Linked DNA regions of Homo sapiens. The protein of the gene in region 2 interacts with the protein of the main gene of each other region in a biochemical or structural test. Each region holds a gene or a part of one and is shown on either strand. Other genes may lie near its edges.

Region 1 (10,576 bases), on a different chromosome or scaffold from region 2:
TACAACTCTTGAAAGAAATTGAGATAGTGTACATTTAAAAATGTTCAGTGAACTTCTTGGAACTTAGCATGCATTTAAAATTTGGCAGTTACTATTACTTTATATCTATATACAGGTATCTTTAAGGTCTTTCTGATCCATTGGCTTTTCAAAAAGTGATATACCTCAAAATCGTCTGTATATATTATCATCTTAATTTTGGGTAAAGAGTGTATATATAATACATATGGTTCTCATTTGAACAGAGAGAAAAAGGTCCTAGTGTGCTCCCTGTTCATATGGCTTTTTTGATTTGGCAAAAATATAAAGGGAAGAGGCTAAGGACTCATTCAACTTGCCCATAGATAAGTTCCACTGGATTCCGTTAGCTCAAGTCTTCCTCCAAATCCTCAACTCAGACTCCCAACATGGGAGAGGGGATCACAAACTAGTAAATTTTCTTTTTTTTTTTAGACAGGGTCTCATTCTGTGTTCAGGCTGGAATGCAGTGGCACAATCTCGGCTCACTGCAGCCTCCACCTCCTGCACTCAAGTGATCCTCCCACTTCAGTCTCCTGAGTAGTTGGGACTACAGGTGCATACCACCACACCTAGCTAATTTTAAAATATTTTTTGTAGTAACTGGGTCTCCCTGTGTTACCCAGGCTGGTCTCAACTCCTGGATTCAAGTGATCTTCCCGCCCCAGACTCCCAAAGTGCTGGGATTACAGACTTCAGCCACTGCACCTGGCCACAAACTAGTAAATATTAAACCCAGTTTTCCTCCTCTCTTTCAATCCTAGGGTGGAATTCAACCAAGGGTGTAATGGCTTTGAAGCAGGCTGGCCTCACTTTGAACTCAGGAGAAGTGGAACAGAGTTGCATATTTTCTTAAGGTCCTAGAAAACATAAGGTCCTTTTATAACATAATGTGACACAGAAATATATTACTTGATCTGAAAATTAATTTTTTGTATAAGCACTATCATACACTATTGATGCAAGTCAACAATCATTTTGTGGGGCAATTTGGTAATATCAAATTGGTAGAACAATCTTTTTGTAAGGAAATTTGGTACTATCTATCAAAATGTAAAATACATATACCTTATATCCCAGCAATTGCACTGTTAAGAATGTACTCTCAGAAGCATGGTCAGGATATGTGTAAAATATATTGATTGAAGCACTGTTAGTAACAGGAAAACAAACTGGAAACAAACTAAATGCTTATCCTTAGGGGGTACTGGTTTAAAAATTACACTACAACCATGCAATGGAAAAATCAGGTATTTCTTTGTCCTCTCCAAATGTGTTAGAACTCCACCATTTCTTTATCCCTGATTGAGCAAATTGAAATGTTAAGCATTTTTCTGCTTAAGCCCATCTGGAATTCCCCGGTATAATTTTCAATACTTCTGAGCTGCTATTTCACTTAAATACTGGTCTTCTCCTGGTTGCACCCCTCTGTCTAGGATCAAGCCTGCCATCAGCAGCCTCAGAGCTATGGAAGAATCTTATTTTTCTGTTTAAGATAGTATTTTCTCTTTCTCTATTGACTAAAAGCATCAATCTTTAAAAACATGCCACCGGTGACAAATGATAAATTAGGATATTTATACTTGGATGGAGTTCCAGCAGAAATAAGCTATTTGGGGTACAGGCAGAGCAGCAGGGTAGACTTAGACCTTTCTAGCACCCTTCCTTTTTAACATTCACGGTTCACGTGTCCTGCCTCTGAAAGGCTGCTACAATGTGAAAATCTTTTATATGCTCAATATCTGTTTTATGCTTTTTAAAAAAATAAATAAAAAAATACAGCTCTTCTGAAAACTTGGGAACATCCTTTTAAACAAGGTTTGGATTTTGATACTGTCACTCTTATTAGAACTACAACCCATCTGTACTAGAGTTGATTATATTCTAGAATCAGGCAGCATGAAGAGAACCTGACAAGCTCTGAAATAAGAAAACTCAGTGATCCTCCTTTAGAAATTTCCTCATCCCTCTGTTTAATTTTAAATCTCTGGGATATTGAAAATAATTTACATCTTTAAAAAATCCTAAAGTAAAGCATTTACATTGGCTTACCTTTTTCTTTGACAAAGTATTTTTGCACCTCTGGGATCAGAAAACTATAAACCAACTCAGCAACAATCTCCTCTGACTGAAGATAGGTTCGGCTAAAAAATATAAAACAAATTGAATTATTTCTTTGGTTTTTTCACTTGAGCTGCTGATTTATGCTTTCCTGCTGTGTAAGCAACTCCATTCAAACCCCACCATCACCTTTTCCTTGATTAAGTGATCTGAAATATCACATTCCTGGCAAGTTTGTTTAACTCCACAAAAAAATTTGGATTTGACCCTGTCCTTCAGTTACCCTGCCTGCCAGGAAGGGAATGTTGGAAACACAGCTTATACATAGAAGCCAGCAACCTTGGGATGAAGTCCCAGTAATGTTGCACACACGTATTCACATTGTTTTCATGCTTCCGAGTATTCTTAAAGTAAGTAATGAGAGTAATCCAGATTGCAGAGGATAACTGAGAATACATACGGAGGCATACACATATTGGCTTCTCAAGAGTTAATGTTAATAAAACAATGGACGCTGAAGTATGAGTTATTTGTTTCTACTTGGTGGTGAAATTGTAAGCTCTTGAAAAAATATATATGAGTACCAGCAAATGGGCTGTCCATTCTACAATCTGTTCTCTTGATACACACCGGCTTTCCATTTCATAAGCAATGTCATTGATTTTCTCAGCCATCTTCTCTATTTCTGCCCTGGCTTGTTCTTCTGCAGTATTCGCTTCGGTATTCAGTATTATGTCTTCTAGGTAGGAGCTTATAGTACTATGGTGAACTTTAACCACCTGCAAAAAACAATAATACCCTCACTAAAACAGGTATGCTGTTGTAAACAACACAAGAAAAATACACAAACATTGGTTAACTTTTTCTAGCTCATATATTTCATTTAATAAGTCAACAGTCCCTTCACTAATCATTCATTTTCTTTAGCATCTCATCAGTCTGTTTCTCATCCACCTACCTACTCACTCTGGGCAGCCCACACCCATTTAGCCCATTTCAGAATTATGGATCTTATTGGGCAGGCAGGCAAGACAGCACTGCTGAAGGATTATGGGCTTCAGAGTCAATAACGCTGGTTCAAATCCTGGCTTTGTTCTTACCAGCAACGTGACTTGGTCAAACTATCTAACTGTAGCACAGACTAGGAGGTATTCTGCAGTGTCCTTTCTCTCCTTCCTCTTACATAATAGAACCCCTGGATTTTAGCTAGGGAAACAGGTGCCTAGAATAAAGACTACATTTCCCAGCACCCACAGGAGCTGGATTGCCCATATGACCACGTTCTGACCAAAGAAAGGATTCTTAAAGGGAAAGACCTGGCTTCCTTTTTTCTCTCTTCATTTCTCCTTTCATGAGGACATAATGCTGGAATACCAGCAATCATCTTAAATTGCCAGAAGGCCTACGACCTAGGAGCAGAAGAGCAGAAAGCTAGAAGGATCCTGGGTCTCTAATGAATTTATTGAACTATCATACCAGCCCTTGACTGCTTCTTTTTAAAGTTTACTTGAAATCATGAAATAGGATACAGATTTTAAAAGTGCATTGCAAGCAAACTCAGAGATTAGAAAAATAAAACAAAATAAAAAGTACAGAGCACATAAATGTACAGTGTAATGAATTAGGGTAAAGTCAGAAGCCATGTATTATAGTAACTGCCAGTATCTCAGAAGGCCACCATGGTTTCTTCCTTTACCACAGCACCTTCCCACTTTCATAGTAAACACTTTCTTTTCTCTATAATTTTGCTACCTAGGTATGTAACCATAAACAAAGTAGTTTAGTTTTGCCCGCTTTACAGGTGTATGTATATAGAAAGATTAAGCATCAACTGTGGCATACTTAGTTTTGCCTGTATATGTATGCTGTCTCCTCAACAGATTATCAGCTTTTTAGAGGTAGGGCATTTTTCTGTTTCATGTCTAAATATAGCTTTGTATCTGAGATAATGCCTGGGACTCAGTAACAATTCAGTACCTGTTTGTGGATTGGCACTTTGGCACAATTCTGAGTATATGATACTGTACACCTATGTGTAAAACATCAACCTTCAATCCCTATGCCTTCTCTATGGGAGAGTCTCAATGGCCAGTTTAATACAGTATCAACCAAACAACTAACCAACCAAAATATATCTGCTGAATGCCTATTAGTTACAGGGATCTACACTGTGTTGTGCAAGGCACAAAGGGAATATACAATATTCATGCTCTCATAGAGCCCACCCTCTTATTCAGGAAGCAAGTTGGATCTATATGGATCAATTAGCTCAGTCACGTAATAGTAGAGAGGTGGAAAGTTTACTATGGTCCATCCATAGCTGTATATGTACCTGTGTGTTTATGTATATCTTTATAAATGTGTAAATTTCTGGAGACGTTTGTGCGTGTATGTATGTGAATAAGGAAAAGTGTGGCTATGTGTGTTCCTCTATGTCTTGCTAATGTTGTGCACACCAGATTATATTTGTAAATATGTCCTCATGTATGTGCCTGCAAAATTTATATGTATTTAAAGATGAGTCGATGACTTTATATCTGTGTTTCTCACTATCTAGATGCATATTTTGGAAATTTATTAAATATTACATTTCTGGTTTATAATTTATGTGCAAGCATATTTCTCTTCAAGAGAATCTGAATGGAGGCTGGGGAAGTAGGATGGAAAATAGTCACTATATTTTAATTAGGAAGGTTGAGAATTAACATATGGATGATATTTGAATCTGTGGGTCCATAGCTGAGTACATTTTTTACCTAAGTGGTTCTTAAATCAGGCTAGAAAGGCTATATTAACCCTTTCTTGCCCTTGCTAGACAGAGCTGATGTTTTCTGACATCATTCCCATTTAGAAGGTATCTTCCTAAGAAGCTTTTTTACCAGCTTTTTCCTTTCTCTGCTTTTGTGTATAGTAGCTCCTCTGTTCCATTTCTTCTTATTCTCATCCCCAGCTGGTTCTTCCTTAGTGATATTAGGTAAAGGATGGCAAGTTCTGATTTGCCAATAATTTCTAAATCTCAGTCACTGTTTTTGAAGAAAAGTGTGTTGAGATTAGTAGGAGGCTAGAAGCTGGTCACCAACTTCCAAATTTACATCTTCGGCCAAACCCTCATTTCTAAATTCCATCTTGTAGATCCATCTACTGAAACAATACCTCTGCTTAGATGTCCCAAACGAAATATAAACTGATTTCCTGATTCCTCCCCTGCCCCTAAGCTTATTCCTCTCTCAACTTTCCTACCTCACGAAATAATACCATCATCTTCCAGCTGCTTAAGCCCGAAACTGGATGTAATACTCGACTTCCTGTCTCTCACTCTGGCCTTCACTACTTCAACAGCTCCTTCCTGGCCGCCTTGTTCCCCCTCTGTCCTCCCTCCAGCCTGTGCTCCACACAGCAAGTGAAGTAACTGGCTTAAAATGTGTCTCTGGGCCCTATTTGTTTCCTTCATGGAACTCATTACAGTTTCTAATTCTATACACGTGCGTATTATGTGTTATTTAAGCTTTAGGAGAGACGGGATCGTGTCTGGGTTTTTTCCTCCAAAGTTTCCCACAGTGCCTCTGTAGAGTGCCTGGCATACAGTAGGAACTCAATGCATAAACAAAAGCCAAATGCCATTTTATGTCATGAGCTTCCTTTGGTTTGACTTGGCTCCTTCTAGGCAGCTTCCACACACCCAGCTGCCCCTACTTGCCTCCTTAAATATCTCGTCCTCCTCCCGCAGGCGCTGTTTTTCCACCTGGCGCCGACCACTCTCTTCAGCCTCTCGTACCCGCCGCTGGCGCTCAGCCAGCATGACAAAGGCATGGATCCTCCTCTCCTCCTGCAGTCTCACCAGCTCTTTGGACAGGAAGTCAAACATGTCTGCTAGTGCCCTTCCTTCCAGTCCGGCCAAATGGTTTTCAACCAGTGACACCTTGAAAAGAATAACATAACTTTAAGGACACAAATTCCATTATGAGTGGTGATTATTAGAAGAAGTGCTGGATTACTCAAAACTCTTGGCAGTCAATTCACTTTCAGAATGCATTTAATTTTTACTGGGAATATTACCTCTCAATTGGCTCCAACCCAAGTTCTTATGAGGAAAACTGAGGCACGAGAAAGTCGATTGTCTGGTCAGTCACTGATGGACCACAGCCCTCAAATAAGCAAGAGGATTTAGCAAGACGTTTCTGTTAGTGACCATGGAGAATGGGTTTTTTTTCTTTCAATTTTATCAACAAGGTAAAGTGTGTCTTCTCAGATATGAAGGGAAATGTCAAGTTTTTTATTAAAGATAATATTGGAGTTTAATCAAATTGAATCTCCTAGAAATTCACTCATGATATCAGTTAATTTTTCAATATCTTTCCTTTCACACAAGTTAGGAGTTAAGATCTTGAATAACGTGAAAGTAGAAAACCTTGGTACTTTTTACTTTTTTAATAACTTTGAAGTCATTAACAACAATATTCGAAATAGCACAGGAATGGCTGGGCATGGTGGCTCAGGCCTGTAATCCCAGCACTTTGGGAGGCTGAGGCGGGTGGATCACCTGAGGTCAGGAGTTCGAGACCAGCCTGGCCAATATGGAGAAACCCCGTCTTTACTAAAAATACAAAAATTAGCCAGTCGTGGTGGTGCGTGCCTGTAATCCCAGCTACTCGGGAGCCTGAGGCAGGAGAATTGCCTGCGCCCAGGAGGCAGAGGGCGCCACTGCACTCCAGCCTGGGTGACAGAGTGAGACTCCATCTCAGAAAAAAAAAAAAAAAAAGCACAGGAAACAGACCAAATGTCCATCTAATCACTGAGGCAAAATTAGGGACCCATTGTGCTCTCTGCCAGAAGTCAGCTACAGTGCCTATTTATGAATCCCTGTGTCCTGGCTTTGACATATGGAGAAGAAAAGTGTTTAAGATGACTTTGCAACTTCATCCCCTTTCCTCTCCTATCCTTGCTTGTAAGGGAAAAGGGTTCATCTTCCAGTCACATGCCACCTTCTCAGTGACAGTTCTCCCTCTATGCTCAGCTTCCTTCCTGGTTTCTGTATGAAAGGAGGGAATACTCAGTTCTCAGAGGCCATGGGGCTATGGGTAAAAGCATCAGTCAAGTGTGGTTGTTGGCCCCAACACCACCCATCTTCATCCTCACCTGCCTCCTAGCCCACACACACTTTCTAACCACAAAGTTCAACTTTACTTATATAATAGGGAGAGATGGAAAAAAAGGGCAAAGCTAAGAGCATCTCACTACTCCTTCCATTCATAAACAGTAGATACTCAGCCCAGAGATCACAAATAGATTCTCTCCTTGTCTCCAGGGAGCATAAGCTCCCTCACTCAGGGTCAGGTGCAACCTTGAAAATCCTGAGGTGGCTAGAAATCCTGTTCATGTTTAGCCTCTTCTCTCAGCAAGAAATCTGGGTAGGCACAGGCAGTACCATCTAATTTGAAATTAAGGGAAATGTTTAGGGAGGGGACTCCACTGTAGTCACAGAAAGTACTGTGTTACGTAATTGGGGGTTGTGCATTTTCTGGACTGTTTTCCACAGAAATATAAGAGAAGGGGGAAGGGGGCAGACCAGCATTGCTGCATCTATACATGAGGTGCTCACTCCCTCAGATCCCTGCATATATCCAGGGTGTATCCAAGTACAGCTGAAGGTAAGCAGAGTGAGTCCTTGGCTAAGTGACAGCTTTGCCCATTAACTCCTCCCTTAGCTGTAGGCGGACACGATTTCACTCACATGTATATCCACTAAATGGAATAAATGAGCTGAAAAGCCTGGGTTAGCTTAGCTATACCCACTAAAGTCATGATCAGAAACTGAAAGGGCCAAGGAGGGCATTTTTTCATCCACAGTCTCAGGGCCTAGCGCTTCCAGGGCATTCTGCTCCTTATCTGAGCTTTTCCAGGACTCTAGGACTTCTAGATTCAGGGACTCCAGTGTTGACATTCTCCTCTTCCTTCTCTGGTTCCTCTGTTGGATCTCACAGCCTGTGGCTTGCTTCCTCCCCATTCTGCCTCACCCCCCAAAAGTTCCCCAAGCTCAGCAAACATCCATGGTGCTGCTGTCATGTGAAAGAAACAAAGTTGTGGTCATTTCCAGGCTGCTTACCATTTGTGCCCGACTCCCACATAACACAAGAGTTATGTATGTTGCTAAAGGGGGGGTCATATTAACTTTAAGTATTACTTCCCTATAACACTAAATTCTGTGCAAATTGATTCTTTTTCAGATTGACTTACAGAAAAGTGGGAGAGGGAGTAAAATAAAGCATAGCTATACTATGTCAATAACATTTAAAAGTGTGTATACATATATAGACAAACATTGGAAGAAAATAGGAAAAATATTTACAGTTGTTGGTTTGGAGCTGTAATTCTTAGCTGTGTCAGGCGGCACACAGCTGGGAGGTCATGACGAAAGTCACCACATATCATGAAACAGTAACACATTTAATATGCAGTTTAACCAGCATGAGCTATGACAGCTCTAAAACTCCAAAATAAATGCTAATATTTTAAGATAAATCTTATTTCTCACTTTTTTCATGTTGCTTTTGTTATTTATTCAGTCTACAAAGCCCTCACTAACTGAAATACAATAGTCACTGGATATTTGGGGAAAAAAATGGAAGGAAAAAAATCTTAAAGTTGAAAAGAATGCATTCTTCTTGTTTTGTTGTTATTGTTTTGCAAATAAAGAAAAAATAGCACCATATTCAAATCAGTAAGGGCACATCCCCAATCAAATTAAGGACTACAGCAGCATTATTTAAGAATTCCAGAACTTTGGGAAGCTGAGGCAGGCGGATCACCTGAGGTCAGGAGTTCGAGACCAGCCTGGCCAATATGGCGAAACCCCATCTCTACTAAGAATACGGAAATTAGCCAAGCATGGTGGTGCATGCCTGTAGTCCCAGCTTGGGAGACTGAAGCAGGAGAATCATTTGAACCCGTGAGGCAGAGGTTGCAGTGAGCCACGACTGCATCACTGCACTTCAGCCTGGGCGATAGAGTGAAACTCCATCACACACACACACACACACACACACACACACACACACACAAATGCTGACAGAGTGATGGGATTGTGGGGCTGTTTCTTTTTCATCATTTCATTAATTTTTATTATAATGGTGCTGTGTGATGATAAAATCAAGGGAGAAAATTTAACAAGAAAGTAACAAGAAAACAAAAAAAGGAAAACCTTGTGCTCATGCAAGTTCCTCTGCCGCTGTAAGGCCAGGGTCACTTGCTTCTCGGCTTTTTTCACCAGCTTTTCATCTTCTTGTAGTGCGTGGCAGGTGCGCAACTCCTGGATCAACTCCAGTCGCTTTTCTTTCCCTTCAAACATCTGTATCAAATCAAATCAAAGACAGACCTGCAAGTTACCATCCCTTTGTGCCAAGCACTAGGAGTCACACGCAGTGACTTGTGAGACACTTGTGAACAGTGGGTTCTGTCCTGCCTTTTGGGTTCCACAGAGCAGATGTGTCCCACAGAGCTAGAGCTCAGCCCTCTTTTCTGTGCCTTCAGCTTCTCAGGCAGAAAATGGGCTTAGTTTTCAGTGAGCTGTGCTTAATTTCTGAGAATGCCTCTCAAGGACAAGATGACAACTCCAGGGTCATCTGAAGAAACCAGAACCTTCCCCTCATTTCCTGTGCTCCTTCCCTAATAAACCTGAGGATGGCATTTTTCATGGCCATATGTTTTTTTCCAATAAATCTGTCCCTGGTTTGTAATAATCTGTTGTCTGAATTTAACTGTGGCATTTCTCTTGGGAAAATACTGAAAGAAGAGTAAAGAACAGTGCTAAACACAAGTTGTTCATCCAGATGATTTACTCATCATATCTGAATCTCTTATGAGTTATAGCTATCTGGGAAAAAAAATTAACTGGGGCTTTATATCAGTCCATTTTTTAAGTGAAGTGTGCCTGCTCCAGCAACACAAATAATCTGGCTAAGGCTTTACACTCGGGAAGACCAGAGCTGAATTTGCTGGCAGATAACTAAATCTCCCTCAGACTCAGATTACTTGCCTGTAAAATGAGATTATGGATAGGAAAAAAAAATGAGACAACATATGTAGAGCAAAGAATAAATAGTGTGGGCATATAGTAAAGGTTCAAAACCATAATTTATTATTTAGCTCTTTCATTTATAATGTAGGGATTGCCAGACATATGCAAACTCAAATAATTGTATTATGACTGTGGAAAATTAGGGAATCCACCTGGTTGATAATGCTTAAATAGCCAAAATTCAGGTGAGAAAATGTATGGATTTAACAATTCCAAGGAAGAAGTGAGTTTCATACTGCCTTAGTTACAACCATGGCAAATAGCAGGTAGGTCCTCCCTGTCTCTCTCCTTGACACTGTGCCACCCACCTGGACAAATGATGCCATTAGAAGGAAATGGGTCACCAGAAGGAAATGGGTAGGCAACTCAAGAGTTTAGCTGAATAGGATAGCAGGGTGCAAAAGGGATTCACTCCAAGGAACC
Region 2 (10,576 bases):
GCTGGGTAGTGCTCGGTTCTGCCACCAAGGGTGGGGGCGATGGTAGGCCTGGGCTGTGCACCCTCAGCAGCATGGCTGGGCCAGGAATCAGAGTGCTGGAGCCATGGCTCAGGTGTTGGTCCCAGCCCAGCCTCAGTGCTCACAGGACTGTTACCTTCATCCTCAGGGGCCTGTGTAAGTCACAGTAAGCTATGACTTCATGTGGGTACCCTAGAGATCCCAAATTAGCTCACAGTGGGGTTGTGAGGTCCTGTCTAGGACTGTCCCCCACCCTCCATTGTGATGGCCCACAGAGAAGCCAGGGGGGCCAGCACCACCAGACCAGCACACTTTGTGGGTGCTTCTGCCCTTCCACGTAGAGCAGCTGTCAGGAACTCGGGACACTTTCCCAGCCCAATTCACAGAAGGAAGGCCAGAAGCTTAACCCAGTAGTGTCTGAGTACCTGCTTGGCAAAGCCTTCTACGGCCAAAATGAAAACCCTGAATCCACTACCAGGTGCTCTAGGTAAGACAAGACAAGCCAAAAGCCAGAAATACCATCTCTGGACATGGCCTCAAAGTAAGAGCTCCGCCAGCCCAACTAAAAGTTAAACCAACTCCTGCTCTGGAAAACTTAGTACCCGAGGTTGAACTGCCCAGTCTCTTTCCTGCTCTGCTGGCCAAATCCATGGCAGGTCCAAGTCACATGCCTCTTTTCGTGAAGGAAAAATCATCAGCACCTCCTACAAAGGTCTTCCTAATCACTTCATTTTGGGGGTAGGGGTGTGGATTTTAAAACTTTGAAGACTATGTCACACTCACCTTGCCCCTCACCTCTGGCCTTGACAACCATCTTGCTTTACAAGTGAATTCCGCCAGGTTTCTAAAGATGGTCACAACACAGGTGCCAGGAATGCCTTCCTGGGTACATGGAGTTCCCGCCCACGACCACAGAAGACATTACACAAAACTGCCCAAAAAGTATGAAATGGCAATCTGACAACAACCTGACTTAAAAGCCAGTAAAGACATCAGAAAAGATGTTGGTGTGCAGCAAGAAACCCTTCGCAGCACCTCACATGGGCAAAACCAAAGAGGTAAGACCCTGATCTTCCTAATGGCAGACAGTGAACTACGACCACCCCAGAAATCACATAAAAGCATAGAAGGTAATTTCTATTCAACAAATAATTACTGGCACTCACAGAGAAAAGCATGGTGGGACACAAATTAATCAGGCAAGGCACTGCCCTCGAGGCACTTTCAGTCTTGGCGGGGAGTAGTGGAGGGCAGAAGAAAAAAAAAAAAAAAAAAAAAGCCCAAACAGGCCACCACGGTAGCTCACGCCTACAATCCCCAACACTTCGGGAGGATTGCTTGAGGCCAGGAGCTCAAGACCAGCCTGGGCAATATAGTGAGACCTTGTATCTACAAAAAAAAAATTTTTTTTTAATTACCCAGGCATAGTGGCGCACACCTGTAGTCCCAACTACTCGAGAGGCTGAGGTGGGAGAATTGCTTGAACCCAGGAGGCAGAGGTTGCAGTGAGCCGAGATCGCACCACTGCACTCCAACCTGGGCAACAGAGTGACACCTTGTCTCAAAAAACAAGCAATGACCTTTTCTCCAGTGGGCCTGTTACTGCCACTCTCTGCTACTGACCAACTGAAAGTTTTGTCCATAGGACATGGAAGTGCCCTGTTAGGGGTGAAGGAGGAACAGAAAATGGGGTGCCAGTGTCCTCAGACTAGAATGTTCTAGTATCTTGGGGTAGGAATGAGAGAATATAAGCCTGAATGCCAGCATTATGGGAGCCAAGGAGAGTTGGGATGCCCCATTCAATATATAGACTTTCATTCAAGACCCATCTTCAGCCAGGCACGATGGCTCACACCTGTAATCCCAACACTTTGGGAAGTTGGAAGATTACTTGAGCCCAGGAGTTCGAGACTAGCCTGGGCAATGTGGTGAGACCTCATCTCTACAAAAAAAAATTTAAAAGAATTAGTCGGGCATAGTAGTACATGCCTCTTGTCCCAGCTACTGAGCAGGCTGAGGTGGGAGGATCACTTGAGCCCAGGAAATCAAGGCTGCAGTGAGCTATGATGGCATTACTGCACTCCAGCCTGGGGGACAGTGAGACCTGTCTTTAAAAAAAAAAAAAAAAAAAAAAAGTTGGGGGGGACCCATTTTCACCACTCCCTGGTACCCAAATCCAGATCGCCACATTTATAACTTCTCTAAAAAGTGAAGCCAGACCTTCTGCTGGCCTGGCCTGGCGGAAGGGCTCCACAGGCCTAGTTGTCTGCTGACTTCAGCCACCCAACTGAAGGCCCAATCCATGCCTTCAAAGGTGCCTGTCCCTGCATGGATCGGCTGGCTTCTTGTGGGCCACAAACCACGCACACCTTCTCAGCAAGCTACTGAACGATGGGCTCCCCCAAGACAAGGAAATCAACCAAGAAAGGAGGGGCACTGGATCCAGAAACGAGACAAGAGAAGGGGAGAGGGAATTCCAAGGCTGAAGGGGAAGCAGAGCCAGGGAAAAGGGATGCGCCCAGGAGAAACGTGGAACCGTTGCGAGTACCTGGTATGTGGAGCCACAGTGAGAGCCACTTTCCCCCAATGACAGGCATTCCACAGCAATGGTGGAGGCTGCGAGGTGGTCAGGGAACTGGTGAGAGAGACAGAAAATTAAGCAAAAGAAACTAAGGAAATTAACTAGGAGAGGAGAAGAAGAAAATGAAGGAAAAGAAGAAATATGGGAAACTAAAAACCTTGCAGCCATAAACAAGGTTCATATTATAATAATGTATATTCTGAAGATCAACTTGACCAAAACTTGGGCTATCTCTACACTGGGATGATGAGGGAAGAAAAAAGCATAGGAACGAGCTAAATCCTATCTCCCACAGCAGAAAAACAAATCAGATAATAATCCTTAAAAAGAAAGAAAATAATACTACTGACAATGGTGGGGACAGCTGGAAGAATTGAAAGTAATGGGGGTGGGGGGCAGTGGGCAAAGGACTGTCCTTTCAAGCCTTGTACACAGTCAAAAGCCAAATCCTTTCTACAAGTAATGTTTTGATAGAAAACACGTTATTAAGATACATACAAGTAGCAATGCATGCTCTATTACCACACAGCTTTATGTTTCTTATTAACCATCCTAAATTTGCATTAATGTCAACTCATCTGTGTACAAACTTGTAAGGCCTTATTTTCCTATAATAATTGATGCCAATTTTGCTTCAGAGACCCCCAGCTGCCCAGCTGACATAATAGTAATATCAAAAAGAGAGCATGCTTATTGACAGGTTAGATCCCTCTGGAAGCAAGGCATTGAGGGCTAGCCAGCATCAGATGGCTGGACCTCTCAGGGCCAGTCATTTAACAAAGAGTTTAACACGCACTGTGAGCCAAGTTCGCTGGGCACATAAGGCAAAGAGATCCCTCAGGAAGCAAAGGTGGAAGGAAGGGTAGAGAGTCAAATTACAGGTAAGATACTGCAAAGATTCCGCGACTTAAATATAAAGACCTGCAGCCTCTCTCAACTGATTGAGAGAACTGAGCCCTAAGGCTGCCCTTGCATGTGATGAATTACCTATATCCCTGTGCGTGTAGCAGGGCACCAGCTGGGAGAGTTGAGGAACGGTCACCTAGTCCTTTTCTGTGTGCTGTGGTTGAAATGAGAAAGGCTGGATGGAGCACTTGGAAGGGGAAGCTGCAGACAGAATGAGGCGGGAATGCCTCTTGGAAGAGGTGGCATCAGAACTGGAACACTTGAGAACTGTGCCAAGATCTGGGGGGAAGCAGGAGGAGAGCGGGGAGAAAGTTCCAGGCAGGAAGAACATGTGCCAAAGTCCTAAGGCAGGAACAGGCTTGGCTGACTCAAGAGGTAGCAAGAGGGGAGGTGAAGATGAGGCAGAGCATGGCTCTCAGAAAAAGGGCTCTCCAACATCACTGCGCGGAAGGCCAGTCGGACTCGCAAGAACCCCAAGGGACACGGTCCACCAAACTTTCTCCAGAGGGGAAAGCGATGTGCCTGAAGAGCCAAGGGGCTTTAGTTCTTAATTAATAAGCAGAAGCTGCTTCCAGACTTGATTCCTGAAACAGGATGCCTCTGTGGCTGGTAGCATGACAGGTACACTGTGTAGGTAAACAGGGGCTTGCTTTTACCTTTAAGTTCTCAGCGAATACACTTGCCAGGAAGCCCTGTGGCCACACCACACATTAGCCTTACAGAGCCACCACTAAGGGTAAGGGATAATAAGCCCCCCTTACTCTCAGGCTCCCTCAAAGGAACCTGTTCCAATAAGGCAGTCCAGCCCCAGGAGGCGGACACACACAGCCTACGTAAGCCCTTGCCACTTCTTTGAATCAGACTTTGCAAAAAACAACCTTGCTCTCCAGCCAACATAAACCATAGGCAACAGAGGGCCTTATAAGGCTTGAAGCTTTCTTAATCAGAAACAGTTAGATGGGCTGGAGTTAGCAGCTCCAAGTTAGAGGGAAGGAGGAACTGAAAAGGAGAGAAGAAAGGGTGGCCTAGGGAACCAGCAAGCTTGCTGGTCAAACTGCTTTTTCATCCCTCTTCAGCTTCTGTGTCATCACAGTAAAGAATTCTCACCGGGGGTCTATGGCCATGCCTCCTTTCATGTTTGCATTTTGGTTTAAGCCAGAGGAATCAGACTGCCCACCAATCCACACTATTAGAGAGTTTTTAAGTGTCCATTTAGTGGCCAGCCTTTAGGCTGGGCAACTTCACACAAAAATGAAGTTATGGGGCCAGGCACGGTGGCTCACACCTGTAATCTCAGCACTTTGGGAGACCAACATGGAATGATCACTTGAGCCTAGGAGTCTTGAAATGGGTCTGGGCAAGGTGATGAGACCCCATCACTACAAAAAAAATTTTTTTAACTAGCCAGGCATCATGATGTGCACCTATAGTCCCGGGTACTTGGGAGGCTGAGGCAGGAGGATCCCTTGAACCCAGGAATTCAAGGCAGCAGTGAGCTATGATCGAGCCACTGTACTCTAGCCTGGGTGACAAAGCAAGACCTCATCTCTAAATAAATAAATAAATAAATAAATAATGTTTTTAATGGGGTTATGTGGTTTCCTGAAAAATTGCCTGCTGGGGCAACAAGGGGTCCTCACTCCCCAGGCAGCAGTCTGACACCTAGCTCCCCAGCTCCCCAGCTCCCCGGGCTGCCTCAGTCACATGCCTGCCTGCACCAGGAGGCAGGCTGGGCCCCTGCCACAGATCCAGAATAGAAAAGGCAGCCCTGGAGACCTCTTAAGCAGCCACCCCCTCCACACACCCCTTGGCAGCTTCCAGGGTGGCTTTATTCTCCTCTCTCTCCTGACGAGGCGGTGGCAGCAGAGACAGCAGCAGCTTTGGCACCAGGACCTGTCCCGTACACTGCAGCCACATGCACTTGGCCCTCCTAAAGGATGCCACCTGCTAAAAATAGCACCAGCACATGCTTGGCCAGGTGAGCCACACCAAAGCCAAAGGACAAAGCAGGGAGGTTATTTGCAGCACGGCCTTTTCTCCCAGAGACAGCTAAAGGCACAGCTGAGTGTGGGTCTCCCTCCAAGGCAGTTCAGGAAAGTGAGAATCACTCCTGCTCCTTTTTCTTGGGAGTGGCAGAAAGGAGGGGCAAGAAGGAGTGTACAGAAGACTGAACTGTCCTTCAGATCTGTCATCGACCCAACCTCACAAAGGCACATCCAGGCCCAGGCCAGAGAAGGGATGGGGGCTGGGGCTGTGCTTGAAAAGATCTTACTGCCTCCTCTAATCAGGAGGCCAGCTACTGCTGGGTGACAGCCTTTGGAGGGCCAGGAGATGGTCTGTGACCTCCAAGTGAGGTCTGACAGGTGTCGGGAAATTAGTGACTTCAGGATTGTCTTTTTCAATCAGCTCAGTCTTCAGAGCAGTTTCCCTGAGCCCTCAGGCACAGCTTTTTTTATTCATAGTCATTACTTGTGCATTTCAAAAGCACCCGATGGTTGCATAATTCTGATGATAAAATATGGCTTTGGAAAGACAAGAGAGTTAAGAGTAGGATCCTGTACTTCAGTTTCCCATAAAATGAAGATGTTCTGTAATAGGGAATATCTCCCTCACAGAGTTGTAACGAGGCTGAACACACTTAAGTCAGACTCCATATGTGGGATCAATGATTTTAATCTTTGTAAAACCCAGTTTAGTTTCCTGAATGAGGATGTGGTGATAAAGGGGCAGTAAATAAGCAACAACCAATGAGCATGGGGGGCGGCAGGGGCAGAGGAGGAGGTGGGGAGCACGCCCCAGCCCAGGTCCAAGCCAGTCCAGCCCTTGCTGTGTCCAGGGACCAGTTTACTCTACTCGGATCTTGTTTCTTCACCCACAAACTAATCACTGTACTAACCTCATAGGGCTGACAGAGAATAAAAATGACACAGAAAAAAAAAAGCCACTAATATGCCAGTAGGTGCTCATCAGTAAGTGTCCTTTATGCTGCCTGGCTCCAAGAAAAGAGATCTCACATTATATATACCAAAGGTCAATCTAGCAGGGTTCAAACAAAGCACACCCAGGACTAGAAGAGGGGGCATCTGGAAACAAAGAACTCCCCACCCCTGCCACAACAGAACACGTTAGCATCCACGCTGTGGCCCCACTCTCCCCCAACACCTTCTGTGAAGAATGGCCCCTAACATTTAGGTGGACTGGAAACAGCAGAATGAAAACACAACCTCGTTTAAGAGAAGGGCCGCACTGAGATCTGTAGGAAGTCATCAGGTGGGTGAAGGACCAAGTAACAATATGTTGACATCTGACATTTGGAGACCAAGGACAAACCAGCAGGGATCTTTATGATAATAAACGGCTTCAAACCAAAAGGGCTTTCTAAGGGCTTAGCATCTGGACCTTTGCTTCACGCTCCTGTCCCCAGGTCCTTTCTGAAGGTCCTCACTCAAACTGTTTCAAAACTGTTCGTCCACTCCCAACTGGCAGACTAGAACTCACTTGTAGTATGCCATGGAGACAACCAGTAGATAATTTGTCACCAAAGCTGTTGGGTTTATGGACTCTGGAAGACTAAGCTCAAACATGTTATGCTTTAGAGATTTACAAGTTGAGACAATTAAGCTTTTAGAGTTGGAGAAAAAAAAACTTTCTAGGCCGGCGCTGTCCAACAAAACTTTCTTCGATTATGGAAAATGTTCTTGACCTGTACTGACCAGGACGGCAGCCACTAGCTACACGAGGCCACTGAGAACCTGAAATGTGGCTAATGTCACTAAGAAATTTTTTTAAAAATACTTTGAAAAGTTTAATTAGTCACACAGCTAGCAGCTACCCTACAGACAAGGCAGCTCTAAACTCCCCACACCCAGGACAAATTTAGGCAAATAAAGCTATCTTTAAAAATAAAAAATATTTAGAACAGTAGCACACCTTAGAGCTAAGAACTTGAGATGAACAGTGAGTTGTTTTTTTTCCCCTTAAGTCTTTGACATGTACTACCCATTGAGCTGTGCTCCCCAGCCCAAACACATCACTCCAGTGGCCCCTGGGCACGTTTGGTCTAACTCCAAGGCTCCCAGGACCATAATCTGAATACTGATAATTTTGACCAAACCTCTTTTAGCCACTGAATAAACCAAGATCTGGAAGGCCAACCAGCCTGCCTAGAATCACCGCCAGGTTTCAGCTCTGAGAGCTGCAGCAAGTCCCAGGCTCTTGTCAGCTAAGCCCAGCAGTGAAACAAGCCTCATCAGCCCTAGGTTATACATATTTTTACTTCCAGGACTCACCTCAGGGCCCTTCTTTGCTCCCAAGTGCAACTGGGCCTTAGTGACACCTGGCTCGGTGAACACAACCAGCCACCATTACAGAACAGGGAACACAATGTTTACCACTGACTGCTGCAAACTATCAAACCAAGCCGGAAAAACAACCAGATGGTGAAGACCCGGACAGAATGTGGACAAGGCTGCACCATTTAGTAAAATGAAAAAGTTAAGGCAAAGGACACCTTGAAAGCTATTTATTGCTGGAAAGCTAGTTCTCAGAATGCTGAATGATAACACACACAATGTTAACAATCTACTTAGAAAGCAGCAGAAAGATTAGGAGAAAAGCCCAGGGATTTAAGAATATTCCTTGGTTCTTCTCACAAAAGCCATCCAGAGGACCTAGTTTTAACTCCACACCCACGCTTCCTAGTTCCTCTACCCCTCAATTTGAATTTGTGTGACAGCCACTGAAACAATCCAGAATGACCTCCAGCTTCACCCTCACTGTTCTCAGAGGTGTGAGGATTAAAGGATTAGTGTGCTCATAACTCACCTAGCACAGTAACTATCAAGAAAGAGGCATCCTCTCAAGTTTAGCTCCCAGCTCCCCCACTACCTGTTTCTCCAGCCAGACTCTGTCCTACTTCAAACATGCTCACTGATGATGTTTTCCACAGCCCAAGCTTCAAATTAGGTACCAAGGCCAGGAGGTTCCTTCAGTGGGATGCCACATGTGATGGGAACTTAATGTTAAATGATCATAAAAGTGAAAACTGCCTGAGGTATTACACCAGGAAGGAACATGGAAGAAACAGAACTTGCCCTAAGAAGCAAGATTTAGGACTAAAATACACCCCCCACCATAAAGATGAGCAACTCTCAAACAGTATATGAGATGATTTCAATGGGACAAGATGCCCACAGGATCTACTACCTCCCCATAGTGGAAGAAAACGCCTGAGAATGACAAGCTGAAGGTATTAACTCATACCTGAAACAACTGACTTCCCCACAATAGGAAAACAGACCAAGCTACAGAAAGGCCCAATCATTCAGACTCACAGGGAAGATTAGGAAGGAGTGACCTAGGGGAACTCTACGGCCAGCTCTCTGGGTACATTGGCTACAAGCTGCCTGCTCTTCAAAGCCCTGAAATGCACACACAATCAAGTCATGTTGCAGGCTGGGAGCAGGAGGCTAGCCAGCAAAGCTTAGGGAAACCAATTCGTTTTTCCTCCCAAACAAGCTTCTGGGTCAGAGGCTAAGGAGAGGGGTGCTTTTAATAGAATTCAAGTCACTCAAGTAATTCAAGAGAAACAAAGTCAGTCTCAGGGATTGTTCAGGGAGGAGAGGGGAAGAGCAATGCTTAAGCACCTATCACAGTCCCCAGTATCACAAATATGATCTCCATTTGTCTTTAGGACAGGAAAAGGGAATACTGTAGAGGCTAACACCAGCCTTCCCCTAAAATATGGCTGCAACCCAGCCTATGTCCAAAGCTCAAGAATAATTTGGGTTACCAGGCAGCAAGATAAATTGCTTTTAAATATTGATGTTCAGCAACCTTACACTGGAGACATATCGACTTCAGCACCTGAGCAGGCCACTTACAACAGACACCTCCACTGTCACCCTGCAGTGGCCAAGTGAGAATGCATTTCCTAGAAACAACTGGGAGATGGGAGAGATATTCCTACAAGGAACTAGACCTAGACACAAATCCATTAGACCTGTCTCACTCATTGGCTAGGATCTGTTACCTGCAAGTTCTGAGCCATCATCTGACAACATGCATGAAGACAGAGCCTATTAATCCAGTAATGGACTCAAGCTTTAGTGATTTGCATGCCTGTAGGATCCAGAGGACCTCCTCTAACCTAGGGCCATATTTCAAAGAGAATACACCCAAGAATTATGCAGAACCTACAAAACTAGTTAGAGGTTAAAGAAAAGTTCAACACAAGTCAAAAGGTTCCCAAAACATAACTTCACTTGCTTCCAGTGCTCAGGGTCTTAAATAATCAGCAGGTGAACCACTTCAATGCCAAGATCAGAGGAATTATATAAATGATCAAGTCAGGCAGCCTTCTTCATTTCAAAGATGTTCTGTACCTTTAAGAGCAAAGTGGATGGGTGGTGCTAAGAGTCCAAGCTTTGCTTTCTAAATAAAGAGTTAAAAAAAAAAAAGGTACTAATTTGGGAAGGACTTAGCAGTTACAAGAGCTTGTAAGGCTACTAGTTGCCAGAATTAATAGCTTTTTGTGAACGGTGTTCCTTGATCAGTAACTAACAGATACTGTTGCACCAGGTCCAGCAGCCTAGATTTCACTGGAGACAAATCTAAACACGAAGTAACGCGCACTACAGTAGGGGAAAGATACCCAGGTTAACCTCACTAATTGCCCTGCGCATACACCCTACCCAGCTTGAGAGGCCTCGACTCGCACCTGGAGCGAAGTCCACCGGGTTTGTGTTAACGGCGGCAGGAAGGCGCCGCCACCCAGGACATCCCCCAGGAGAGGAAGATCCCGAAACGCCCAGGGCTCCCATGCCGTTCCGAGTCGCCACAGCACCGCCTACCACGATCAGCACCTTTCTTCTCCTATCCCTCCCTGGAAGGGAAACAGGAAGACCTTCAGCTAGGGCACAAAAGAGTTGAACGCCAGAAAGCCCGCGTTCGAGGCATCCAGCCACTGCCTCTCCTAGCACATCGTAACCCCAAAACTGGCGCGGTCCCTCCAGATCGCAGACCCCGGGCCCTGGGCCGCAGGCGGGGCCGGACACGTGACCGTCGGGGCCC

What was found.
Region 1: the proteins of AKAP1 (region 2) and CFAP91 form a complex in vitro, tested with the Homo sapiens proteins (one study listed by BioGRID and IntAct).

Annotation. Positions count from the first base shown.
Region 1 is NC_000003.12:119,739,397-119,749,972, reverse strand, and holds part of CFAP91 (cilia- and flagella-associated protein 91), read right to left. Parts: intron 9,425-10,576; coding exon 9,278-9,424; intron 5,999-9,277; coding exon 5,777-5,998; intron 2,859-5,776; coding exon 2,710-2,858; intron 2,163-2,709; coding exon 2,071-2,162; intron 1-2,070. UniProt on the Homo sapiens protein: Involved in sperm flagellum axonemal organization and function. May regulate cilium motility through its role in the assembly of the axonemal radial spokes.
Region 2 is NC_000017.11:57,086,185-57,096,760, reverse strand, and holds part of AKAP1 (A-kinase anchor protein 1, mitochondrial precursor), read right to left. Parts: intron 10,389-10,576; exon of another isoform or gene 10,224-10,388; intron 1,273-10,223; exon of another isoform or gene 802-1,272; intron 171-801; exon of another isoform or gene 1-170.